Linked DNA regions of Homo sapiens: region 1 is linked to region 2. The links come from fine-mapping of genetic effects on gene expression. Tissue or cell type: whole blood. Region 2 holds a variant in brackets; the other region holds the start of a gene. All regions are shown on one strand. Distances are between the middles of the regions.

Region 1 (5,374 bases), 22 kb before region 2:
TGGAATGAGCACAGGGCAGCAGGCAGGGGGCTTCCTGCAGCATGGGAAGGAGTTCGGGTTATATCCTGAGAGCAGTGCAAAGCCATGGAAGGTTTAAAAACAGGGGCCATGAAGTGATCTGACTTGTGTTTTTAAAAGCTCAATCTGGATGGAGAGGCAAAGAAATGTTAAAAGACTATCATGTTCACCTGGGAGTTGATAGTGGCTTGGCCTGAGTGGTGACAGGAGAAGGGGAGGGAAAGTGGATGAAATGGAGCATGAATGGCTTTGCTAGTGCCCTGGGGGATACAAACATGGGTTAGCCCAGGACTTCCTCCTGAGGCACACTATTTGAGGTGCTAAGACTTGCATGCACATACATTGGTGAAGAGTGATTAAGGGCCACATGGGAGGTGCGGAGAAGGAGATGCAGGAGTTCAGAAGGCGAGATCATGGGTTTGAGCGCTTTCAGGCAGGACTGATTTCAGGGCAGTGTGTTAAGGAGAGTGCTATTTTAGCAGGCCTTCGAAGGCTATGCAAGGTGGGTTTGAAGGTGCAGACATGGGAGAGGGCAGCCTAGAAAGAGGAACTAGCACGAGTCGCACAGATGCAGGAATGAAGGCATAGCGGGAGAAGAGTAAGCAGCAGAGTTTGTATGGGATTGTGAAGGAAAGTTCTGGGGATAAGGCTAGAAAAGTCTTGGCAGTCAGATTAAGGAGAGTTCTGAGTGTCAGGGTGGGATAATAGGAGGGCAAAAACATTTTTTAAAAATGAAGTCTAATTTAGCTACAAATCCATTTGGTTTTCTCAGGAATAATTAATGTGCTATTCAAGTCCTGATTATTTATTCACTAGATGGAATAGCAATACCTCTTTCTGCCATCACTGCTACCTGCAGGTCATTTACCAATGATTTCTAATTTCTTTTAGAATGTATCCCTTCATCATGTATTGAGTATCTGTGCTAGAGATCCTAGAATGAAAAGGCATGGTCCCAACTTCCAAGGAGCCCATGAATTGAGCAGATAAAGAGATAAATTGCAGTAAGTATGATGCAAGTTTTTGGGTAAAGGTGGTACAAAGGAGAGGAAAATTCTCCTACTACCCAGAGTTCAGGGCTAGATTTAGCACAGTTGGTGACATTTAAACTGGGCTTTGAAAGATGAGTAGGAGTTTGCCAGGCAAAGAAGAGAGCTGGGAAGGCCTTGTAAACACAGGAAAACAATCTGGACAAAGACACACATGTCTTCTTAATTCTCACACCTTCAATCCTACAAGCACTGTGGAGTATACATTTTTAAGTTTTATTTTCAGGCTTTTAGGGGAAGCTTGGTGATAATGAGTGAATTCTTTCAGTTGCTACAAAACAAGAGTTTGCATCTAAGTATTTGACCCCCATAAACATGCATTTTACCTAAAAAGAAGCCTGGATTTTAGCAAGCCAAATTGGCTATACCCTTTACCCCCAGTTATTCCTCTGGGAGGTTTTACTGATTTTTACTTTTCTGGAAAAGCAAGGAAAGAACTCTTAAATCTGTTTTTTCAGAGACTAGTAAATCCATTAGTCATCAGTGCAGGACTTTCATCTCTTCAATTTTTCACTGGAAGATGGGAGAAGTCATAATTCACTGTCATGTGGCTCCCAATTTTGACATTTGCAGGAAATTGGTCCCCTCTGAACTTCATGAATGTTCATAAAAGTTATTTCGGCTGGGCACGGTGGCTCACTCCTGTAATCCCAGCACTTTGAGGGGAGGCCGAGGAGGCCGAATCACCTGAGGTCAGGAGTTCGAGACCATCAGCCTGGCCAACATGGTGAAACCCCATCTCTACTAAAAATACAAAAATTAGCAGGGCGTGGTGGCAGGCTTCTGTAATCCCAGCTACTCAGGAGGCTGAGGCAGGAGAATTGCTTGAACCCAGGAGGCAGAGGTTGCAATGAGCTGAGATCGTGTCACTGCATTCCAGCCTGGGCAACAAGAGTGAAACTCCGTCTCAAAAAAAAAAAAAAAAAAGTTATTTCAGGCCCAGATCAGATGGATCTCCAAAGATTATCCTGTCTCAAAAATTTGTTAATGATAATTTCAGCTCAAGATAAACACTAACATATTAATACAGCCTATGGGATTACAAAAAAGTGAGCAAGGAATTCATTCAAGACTGGAAAGAATTATCCTCTCATCTGACACTCCCATTTAACAAGGGTGTGGAAATCAAGGCCCAGTGACACAGGATTTTTTCTCCATCACTTTGTAAGCCAGGAACCTCTGGCTGGTGACACCCTGCCCAGGCCTCAGTGGGCCACACTACCTGCTGCAGGAGATGGCCTGCCCACTCGGCCTGGGTGGGGAGTTTTATTGAGTGATGAAAACAGCTTTCAGTGGAGAGGGGATGCAGGGGTGGTTCCCCTACCCAAAGGCAGGAAAGTCCCCCCAGTGCGGGTGAGTCTGGGGCTTTTATGGGCTCAGAATAGGGGAGGGGCAGGACATAGGTAGTACTGGAAAAGGCAACATTCAATTGGTTAAAAGGCATTAGTCAGAAATAATTAATTGGGAAAGAGCAGACAAACAGGAACAGAAGTTCTCACTCTAGGTCACGGGTTTCATTTGGGACCAGTAGCCTAGTCTTTCAGCCTTCAGGCTGTTTTTGGCTTGAAGGTGGGGTTTCACCAGGGACCTGCCCCTATCTGCCTAGGCATTTGGCTGCCTCCTGTCATTATCACCAGGGAGGTGCCTCTACCTGCCAAGGTTACCCTGGCTCTAGAAGCAGAACTTTGGCCAGAAGCTGCCACAGAACAGGGGTGGGAGAGAGAAGAGGAGCTGGGTGACAGAGCAGAAGCATTTTGGGGAACTGATCCTTCAGGCAGCAGCTGATGTACTTCCTCTCTCCTCCACACTCCACCCCTACTCGCCCTCTCTCTCTCTGCTTCTTTCCTTTTCTCTCTCATGGTAGGGTTATGAGTCAGTTGCCAAAAGGTGGGGACATTTCCTGATGCATTTGCAACACTGAGAAGTTATCTTAAGGGAGGCTGGGCCCCATTCTACTCATCTGGCCCAGAAAGTGAACACCTTGGGGGCCACTAAGGCAGCCCTGCTAGGGGAGACGCTCCAACCTGTCTTCTCTCTGTCTCCTGGCAGCTCTCTTGGCCTCCTAGTTTCTACCTAATCATGTCCCTGGTGGAGGCCATCAGCCTCTGGAATGAAGGGGTGCTGGCAGCGGACAAGAAGGACTGGAAGGGAGCCCTGGATGCCTTCAGTGCCGTCCAGGACCCCCACTCCCGGATTTGCTTCAACATTGGCTGCATGTACACTATCCTGAAGAACATGACTGAAGCAGAGAAGGTGAGTGGAGGTGCCTCTTTCCGGGCCTCCTCTGTGCATTTGTTATTATGATTCTCAACCCCATTGCATTTCGGAAACCTAACCTCTGGGGAGATTGAAAAGAACAAAAGTTGCCCAAGCTCCACCCCTAGACAGCCTGATTTAACTGGTCTGGGAGGGGCCCCAGGCAGCCAGTTTTAAAAGCTCTCCAGGTGGAGAGCAGGTGAGGGGCAGCCAGGGTTGCCTCTTTCTCCATCTTCTAAATTAAAATCATTCTACAAGTGTCTTTAACACCTTTGTGAAGGCTGTCCTAGTCGTACTTTCTTCTACACAGAACTCCTTCTGGGCACAGAATCTCTATCTATCCCAGCGCTTTACACCTGATTATTGATTCTAAGGCACCTCTTTTGGCTTTCCAAGACTTTCATGTGTGTCGACTTTGCCTGCTCAAGAGATTTAAGGGAGGCACTTACAAAAAATAGCTTTTATCCCAAGTGACAATTCTGATCAATTATAAAGGAGACTCTTTTAAAGATGCTGAGGCTGGCAAGAGGAAATTGTACTGTGATTGACTAGTGATGTCTGCTGGGGGCATGGTGTGGGATGTCTCGCATCTTTTTCGTTATGTTTTCTCACTCAAATACCATAGTATGGAGTTAAGCATTCTCGATAATTATTTTTTTGATTGGTTGTGGTAAGGTGGAAAGGGTATGGAGTTTGGAAGGAGAAGATCTAGGATCGAATCCTAGCCTCTGTCTCTCTCTGGACTTTTAGTCTTAAGCAAGCTATGTAGCCTATGTAGACATCTGGCTTTCAGCTTCCTGAGTTTCTAAATATCATGAAAATTAAGTGAGATGCCAAACTATTAATGTCTCGTGGAACTTCACACCACTGTATAAGAGTTAGTTATTATTTTTACCGATTACTGCCAGTCTTTGCAAGGTGTGGCAGTGGTTGACTCCCCAGGTCCCTTAAAGAATCAGTCCCTTCCACACTCCAACAGTAGGTAAACAAGCCTCAGCCACACCCTCCTGACAGGAAGACAGAGAAGTGACTGAAATGTTCTCACATAGCTTGACAAGTCAATCTCAGGCTCTAAGGCAGAGCATGGCAGGACCCCCCACCTCTGGCTGGAGGAAGGACATGGCCCCACCTCCTCTCAGGGGCCTGCTGAGGGGCTGAGTGAACAGCACCACACATTCTGAGGGCTGATGGACACAAAGTGCACATTGTCCAGGAGAAGAGATTGGCAGCTAGTCTGGGCACAGCTATGCCAGCAGGGACTGTAGCCTCCTGCCTTGGCCTGGATATGGGATCCTTGGCAAGGTTGTGTGGGCCACCACTCACTTCTCAGCTCCCAGGCCTTCAGGCCCACATGTCTCTGTTTCTCCTGGCATTCCTCTGCTTCTAGCCTTCTCATTCCTTCTGCCTTTCTTTGTTTTCCTGCTTGAGCCCTTCCTACTAGCATTTATATGCATTCTTATTCATTATCATTTTAATTGTATACTATTCATGTATAAGTTTGTATAGTAAACAAATATAACAATTTATATAATATTTTAATTATTTTCATTTGCAATAAATTTTATTATTTATTTAAACTGAATGTTCAATACATTCATAGGAATACAAGAAATGCAACAAGGGTTAAAATTTCATTATTACATTAGATATCATTTTTTCTTTCTTTTTTTTTTTTTTTGAGATGGAGTCTCACTCTGTCACCCAGGCTGGAGTGCAGTGGTGCAATCTCGGCTCACTGCAACCTCTGCCTCCTGGGTTCAAGTGATTCTCCTGCCTCAGCCTCCCAAGTAGCTGGGATTACAGGCATGCACCACCAAGCCCGTCTAATGATGTTTCATTTTTCAAAGAAGCTTCTCCTATTTCCCTATCTTTTTTATCTTCCACAGAGCAATAAATAGTAATTACTACTCTCCTGGACAAGGTGCTCTGTTGTGTTGGATAGGAATTGTATCTTTAAGTTTGACATCATTATCACCTCCAAAAACTCTACCTTCACTTCATAGCACAGTCTCGCTGCATTGTTTCACAGTAAAATTGTACTCTACTCAAAC
Region 2 (5,374 bases):
AGGGGAAAGGGGAGTGTGGACACACTGCTTAATGGGTACAGCATTTTCTTCTGAGGTGATGAAAATATTTTGGAATTAGAGAGAGGCAGTAGTTGCACAGCATTGTGAATGTGATAAATGCCACTGAATCATTCACTTTAAAATGATTAATTTGGGCTGGGCGTGGTGGCTCATGCCTATAATCCCAGCACTTTGGGAGGCTGGATGGGTAGATCACCTGAGGTCAGAAGTTTGAGACCAGCCTGGCCAACATGGTGAAAACCTGTCTCTACTGAAAATACAAAAATTAGCCGGGCACAGTGGCGGGTGCCTGTAATATCAGCTACTCGGGAGGCTGAGGCAGGAGAATCACTTGAACCTGGAAGGCAGAGGTTGCAGTGAGCTGAGATCACGCCACTGCACTCCAGTCTGGGTAACAGAGCGTGACTCCGTCTCAAAAAAAAAAAAAAAAAAAAAGATAATTTGATGTTATACAAATTGCACCTCAATTAAAAACATTTCTTTTTTAAGAGAGAAGAAAGCAAGCCTGTGTTAGCAGGGGTGGGGTGAATGCTCGTTTCTTCAGTTGCTGAAATCCTAATCCAGAGGCTCAGGAATCTAATCCTTAGTTACTGTCCACGTCTGAAACCAGGCTCACGTAAGAACAGGTCTAGGGCATGAGCAAAGAGGGAGACCCAGAAGAATGGAAACAGTGCTGGCAGAGCCTCACACCCTCCTGTCCTTGATTTTAGGTCGTGGCATCTGTGGTGGATCAAGACAGTTTCTCTGGGTTTGCCCCTCTGCAACCACAGGTAAGGCAGTCCTGACCTTCTCCATGGACCTAGGTCTCGAGAGCTTTCTGTGAAGCATTCAATTCGAGAGACTATGTGTGCTGAGTTGCCTGATTGTAAGGGCTCCTTCAAGTGGCCCTCAGTGCAGCTGAGGGATCTGCCTGCCCTCTCTCAGTCCTGGTTTCCATGGCTGGTGAGGAAATAAGGCAGTGTCAGGCTTCACCCCAAGTCCTCTGAAGCTAACTCTCCTGCTTCCCCACAAATGCCGGTCTTCACATCTCTAAAGAGATCTGCTGATCCTCTCTCTGAAGCCTCAACTATTCTCTCAGGAAGCTGAAACACAAGCTATGGAAGGCTTATTAACAAAGCCTCTTCTTGAGTACAGGGGCAAGTGGGGAACCCTGTGGGGCCTGGGCCTGAGGTTTGGGCTCTCCTGGCTCTACCCATCTGCTCATGTGCAGGGGTTTCCTTCGGGAACACAGGCAGCGCACTGAGAGTGAACCCTTTTTCTGCCCAAGCTGGGCTTGGAGAGGTGAGCTCAGATGAACTGGATGATAGTGGATCTAGAAATGCACACAGAGCTTCCTTGTGAAGGAAAGAGGGGAAAACACATTAAGGAAAATACGAACTCTGTGGCAATGAACCTGTGATGGGCAAGAGTGTTGGTCAGCACTAGCAGAGGGCGGTTTTCTGAGCAGGGGCAGGTATGTTCCAGATCTAGATTCCTTGATCTCTTTCTTCACAATAAAGCTGATGAAAGCCTTGCTGAAGTCCCTTGAGCTTCAGTTCAGCCAGAGGCCATGAGGGGAATGCAGCCCAGGTAACTGGATTCCATGGTATTCAGTGTAGAACAGGGGAGGAGATTCTTGCCCAGTCAGTGGATCCTGTGTCAATTTTAAATACTCAGAAGTGGCCAGGCACAGTGGCTCACGCCTATAATCCCACCATTTTGGGAGGCTGAGGTGAGCAGATCACTTGAGGCCAGGAGTTCCAGACCAGCCTGGCCAACATGGTGAAACCCCTGTCCCTACTAAAAATACAAAAATTAGCAGGGTGTGGTGGCACATGCCTGTAATTCTAGCAACATGGGAGGCTGAGGCAGGAGAATCACCTCAATGAGGGAGGCAGAGGTTGCAGTGAGCCAAGATCGCGCCACTGCACTCCAGCCTGGGCGACAGAGTGAAACTCCATCTCAAAAAAAATTTTTTTTAAATTAATTTAAAAATACTCAGAAGTGTCATGTGACATAGTAGACATTAATTACAGAACAGAGCTTTTGGAAACTGTCCTGGGAAAAGGACAGAGCTCAAGGTCAAAGCATTCTTGTGACACCATGTTGCTGTGTGACTGCTAACCTCCAGAAACTAGCTCTGGCTCAAAATGAATTGCTGTGCTAGTGAAACCTGTACCTGGGGAGCTGGTGGGAGGTGTTATTTCCCAGTGTTTAGTCAGGGTGACTGTGCCCTCTTCCTAGACAGTGTTCTCATCAGTCAGAAATGCGTTATTTGATTTTCTGGTCTGGAAGAATGCTCAAATTACCATTAGCCGTTTGTTGTCTCTCCCCTGCTTTCCCTCATTGCCTTTTCCGTTTTCACTTCTCCTGAATGTTCAATAGGCAGCTGAGCCTCCACCCAGACCGAAAACCCCAGAGATCTTCAGGTAAGTTAGATTCAAATCCATAAATAGAATATCCAAGCGCCAAGCCTGAGCTGATGGCAAGAAAGGGAGGGAAGAAGATGAAGGTGGGGTCAGGGTCTAAATCTTGTTGAATTTTCTGGAATGTCAGGCTTCTTCTAGAATGTCAGGCTAGAAAGGAATGCCTAGAAGAATGTCTTCTAGAATGTCAGGCTAGAAAGGAATGATATGATGGGGATGGGAGTCTTGACTGTGGTGGGGCTGGCCATCAGGGCTTGGCTGCAGCTACGTGGTGTCCCATTGGCCCTCTGTCCACGTGCACAGCCACCCACATGGCAAGGGGTTGTTGCTGAGGGGCAGTGGTGTTCTGTGGAACATAGCTACCCTGGGGACCAGGATGCTGACCTCAGGTTGGAGATCGGTTTCGCACTGGCTGCAGTC[C/G]CCTCTGACGGGGGCAGGCCAGAGCTCTCTGGAGTCAGGAATCTAGAATGACGTCCTTTTTCCTGTGTGGATGTTTTCCACTCCCTATCGGCACATGCTTTCTGAAGAAGTAAAGAGGAAGGACTGAAGAAAAGGAAGTCCTTCTTCTGTAAGATGAAAAACAAAGGGTGACATAACCTACAGCTTTCTTAAGAATTCTCTCAAAGTGATGAAGCAAGCCTGGTCCTCCCACCCAAAAAGGAGGTTTTAAAAAGTGATTGGCCAGGTGTGTGGCTCATGCCTGAAATCACAGCACTTTGGGAGACTGAGGTGGGCGGATCACTTGAGATCAGGAGTTCGAGACCAGCCGGGCCAACGTGGCAAAACCCCATGTCTACTAAACATGAAAAAATTAGCTGAGTGTGGTGACTGACATGTGCCTGTAATACCAGCTACTTGGGAGGCTGAGGCAGGAGGCTCACTTGCACTCAGGAGGTGGAGGTTGCAGTGAACCAAGATCATGTCACTGCACTCCAGCCTGGGCAACAGACCAAGATTCCGTCTCAAAAAAAAAAAAGTGACAAAAGTACCAAAGCAACTACAAAAATGAGGGGGCTGGATGAGCTCATTCCTAAGCTCCCTGTCAGCTGGAAGGGCCTGTATTCCCTACAGGAGTAGGCACGATGTCTGGAAACAAGGATGGGCCGAGGGGAAAGTAACAGAGTGGGGAGTAAAGGGAGGGAAGCCTGAAACCTGAACACCAGCCTCTCAGTCACACGTTCCAAAGTGATGCCAATCAGAGCCTCAAAGCCTAAAAGCATGAAGTCAGACTTAAGGGAACCGACACTGCACCACGGCAGCTGGGCAGCCTCAGAGCCCTCTATGTGCATCCCTCACGCTCCCTGTCACCTACCCTGCTCACGGTCTCTCTATCCTGGCCCAACACTGGTTCTAGGTGGTTTCTCCTTCCTCCTCTCCCACCAATCTTTCTGGCCCAGCTGGCTCTCACCTGACTTCTGCTTTGTGCTGTTCCCCTGACCACAGTCACCTGATCCACCCCACCCCAGCCCAGCCTTGGGTGCTGGCCAAGATGACACAGCCAGGGACCTTCCTCCTCAGAGCAGAAGGGAGGGCAAGGATTGTAAGTCCTCACTATCTAGTGTTGTGGGGTTTTTGCTTTATTCTTGCCCCTCTGCATATATGGTTATGAGCAGGTGTACACCAGTTTCTTGCTGAGACCTCTTGGGAGCCCAGGCAGGCTCAGTGTCATCTCGGCAGTTGCAGTTAGATGTGGAGTTAGAGCCAGGCTGGAGCCAAGTCCCTGGCTCCAAGTTCAGTGTATTTGCGCCATGGCATCATGTGAGGGGATGGGGGCTGGATCTTGTGTCTATCCTCTGCAGGGCTCTGGAAGGGGAGGCTCACCGTGTGCTATTTGGGTTTGTGCCTGAGACAAAAGAAGAGCTCCAGGTCATGCCAGGGAACATTGTCTTTGTCTTGAAGAAGGGCAATGATAACTGGGCCACGGTCATGTTCAACGGGCAGGTATGCAGAGGATCAGGGGCTGGTGCGATGGGCATGGGATCCTGGCAGCAAATGCAGTCTCTGTGGAGCAGTATCTGCTGCCTTCTTTGCAGACCAGCCAAGTTCTTTTGTCTGTTCGTCATCCCTTCCCCAGGACTCTGGGCTGTTCTGTGGTGTGGGTACTGATGAGCACATCTTTATTTTTTCCTTTCTGATTCTGTGGTGCTGCACTGCAGAAGGGGCTTGTTCCCTGCAACTACCTTGAACCAGTTGAGCTGCGGATCCACCCTCAGCAGCAGCCCCAGGTAATGTGATGCCAAGGCCTGACCCATTTCCTCTCACCCTTTAGGGATCTCTCCCTGGAGGGGAGAAAAGCAGTGTAAAAGAGGTGTTGTCAGGACCCCTGGAGAAAGATTCACTAGTCTTGAGCCCGCCTTGAGATGGCACCAGCTACCCAGAGCTGAACCTGGGAATGAGGGGAAAAAAGCCCAGATGTGCTAAGTTGGAGGCATCTGTAGGTCCCATTGGGCCCACCCACCTCTGTGACTCTTCCTGGTCAGAAGTCACTTGGGAAGCAAAGCCTACAGTATATGAGTGGGTTAGGTCTTCCCAAGTGTGTCTGCTTCACGTGGAAGAGTAGTCAATGTGTTGGCTGGTACAATGCCATTAGAAAGAAAATGAGGCCAGCTGCAGTTGCTCATGGCTGTAATCCTAGCACTTTGGAAGGCTGAGGTGAGAGGATCACTTGAACTCAGGAGTTCGAGACCAGCCTGGGCAAAATAGAGAGATGCCACCTCTATACAAATAAAAATAATAAAATGAGATCTGCCTTAGAGCTTTGAATCAGAGTGGGCCTTGCCAGCCACTGCTTCTAAACTGCTGCTACTCCCTCCCTCACACTTCAAAAGTCTGTCCTTCTGCCAGGCCTAGAGAGCTGTCTTTGTCAGATCTGAGCATCCCTGTAAGTGACTCAATGGCAGTGGAGACTGTCTGTCTCTAGACTGTGCAACCAGTTGTATATGAGCTCA

What was found. PIP is the estimated chance that this variant, and not a neighbour inherited with it, causes the effect. A credible set is the group of variants that fine-mapping cannot tell apart.
Region 1: NCF2 starts here. The variant in region 2 is the best candidate, but not a certain one, in a credible set for the expression of NCF2 in whole blood (INTERVAL, PIP 0.78).

Annotation. Positions count from the first base shown.
Region 1 is chr1:183,588,102-183,593,475 of GRCh38, reverse strand. NCF2 (neutrophil cytosolic factor 2) reads left to right here and starts at 3,017. Exons shown (of 15, transcript NM_000433.4): 1 at 3,017-3,320. The coding sequence starts at 3,147. It also overlaps the pseudogene C18orf32P1. RefSeq lists enhancers at 2,288-2,627, 2,738-2,997.
Region 2 is chr1:183,566,197-183,571,570 of GRCh38, reverse strand. It overlaps NCF2 (neutrophil cytosolic factor 2), which reads left to right. Exons shown (of 15, transcript NM_000433.4): 6 at 732-791; 7 at 2,386-2,429; 8 at 4,226-4,367; 9 at 4,583-4,651. Among named protein-coding and RNA genes, the nearest start is that of NCF2, 22 kb to the left of the region's middle. RefSeq lists a silencer at 275-440 and an enhancer at 3,769-3,828. The variant C/G (reference allele first, on the strand shown) is at 2,847.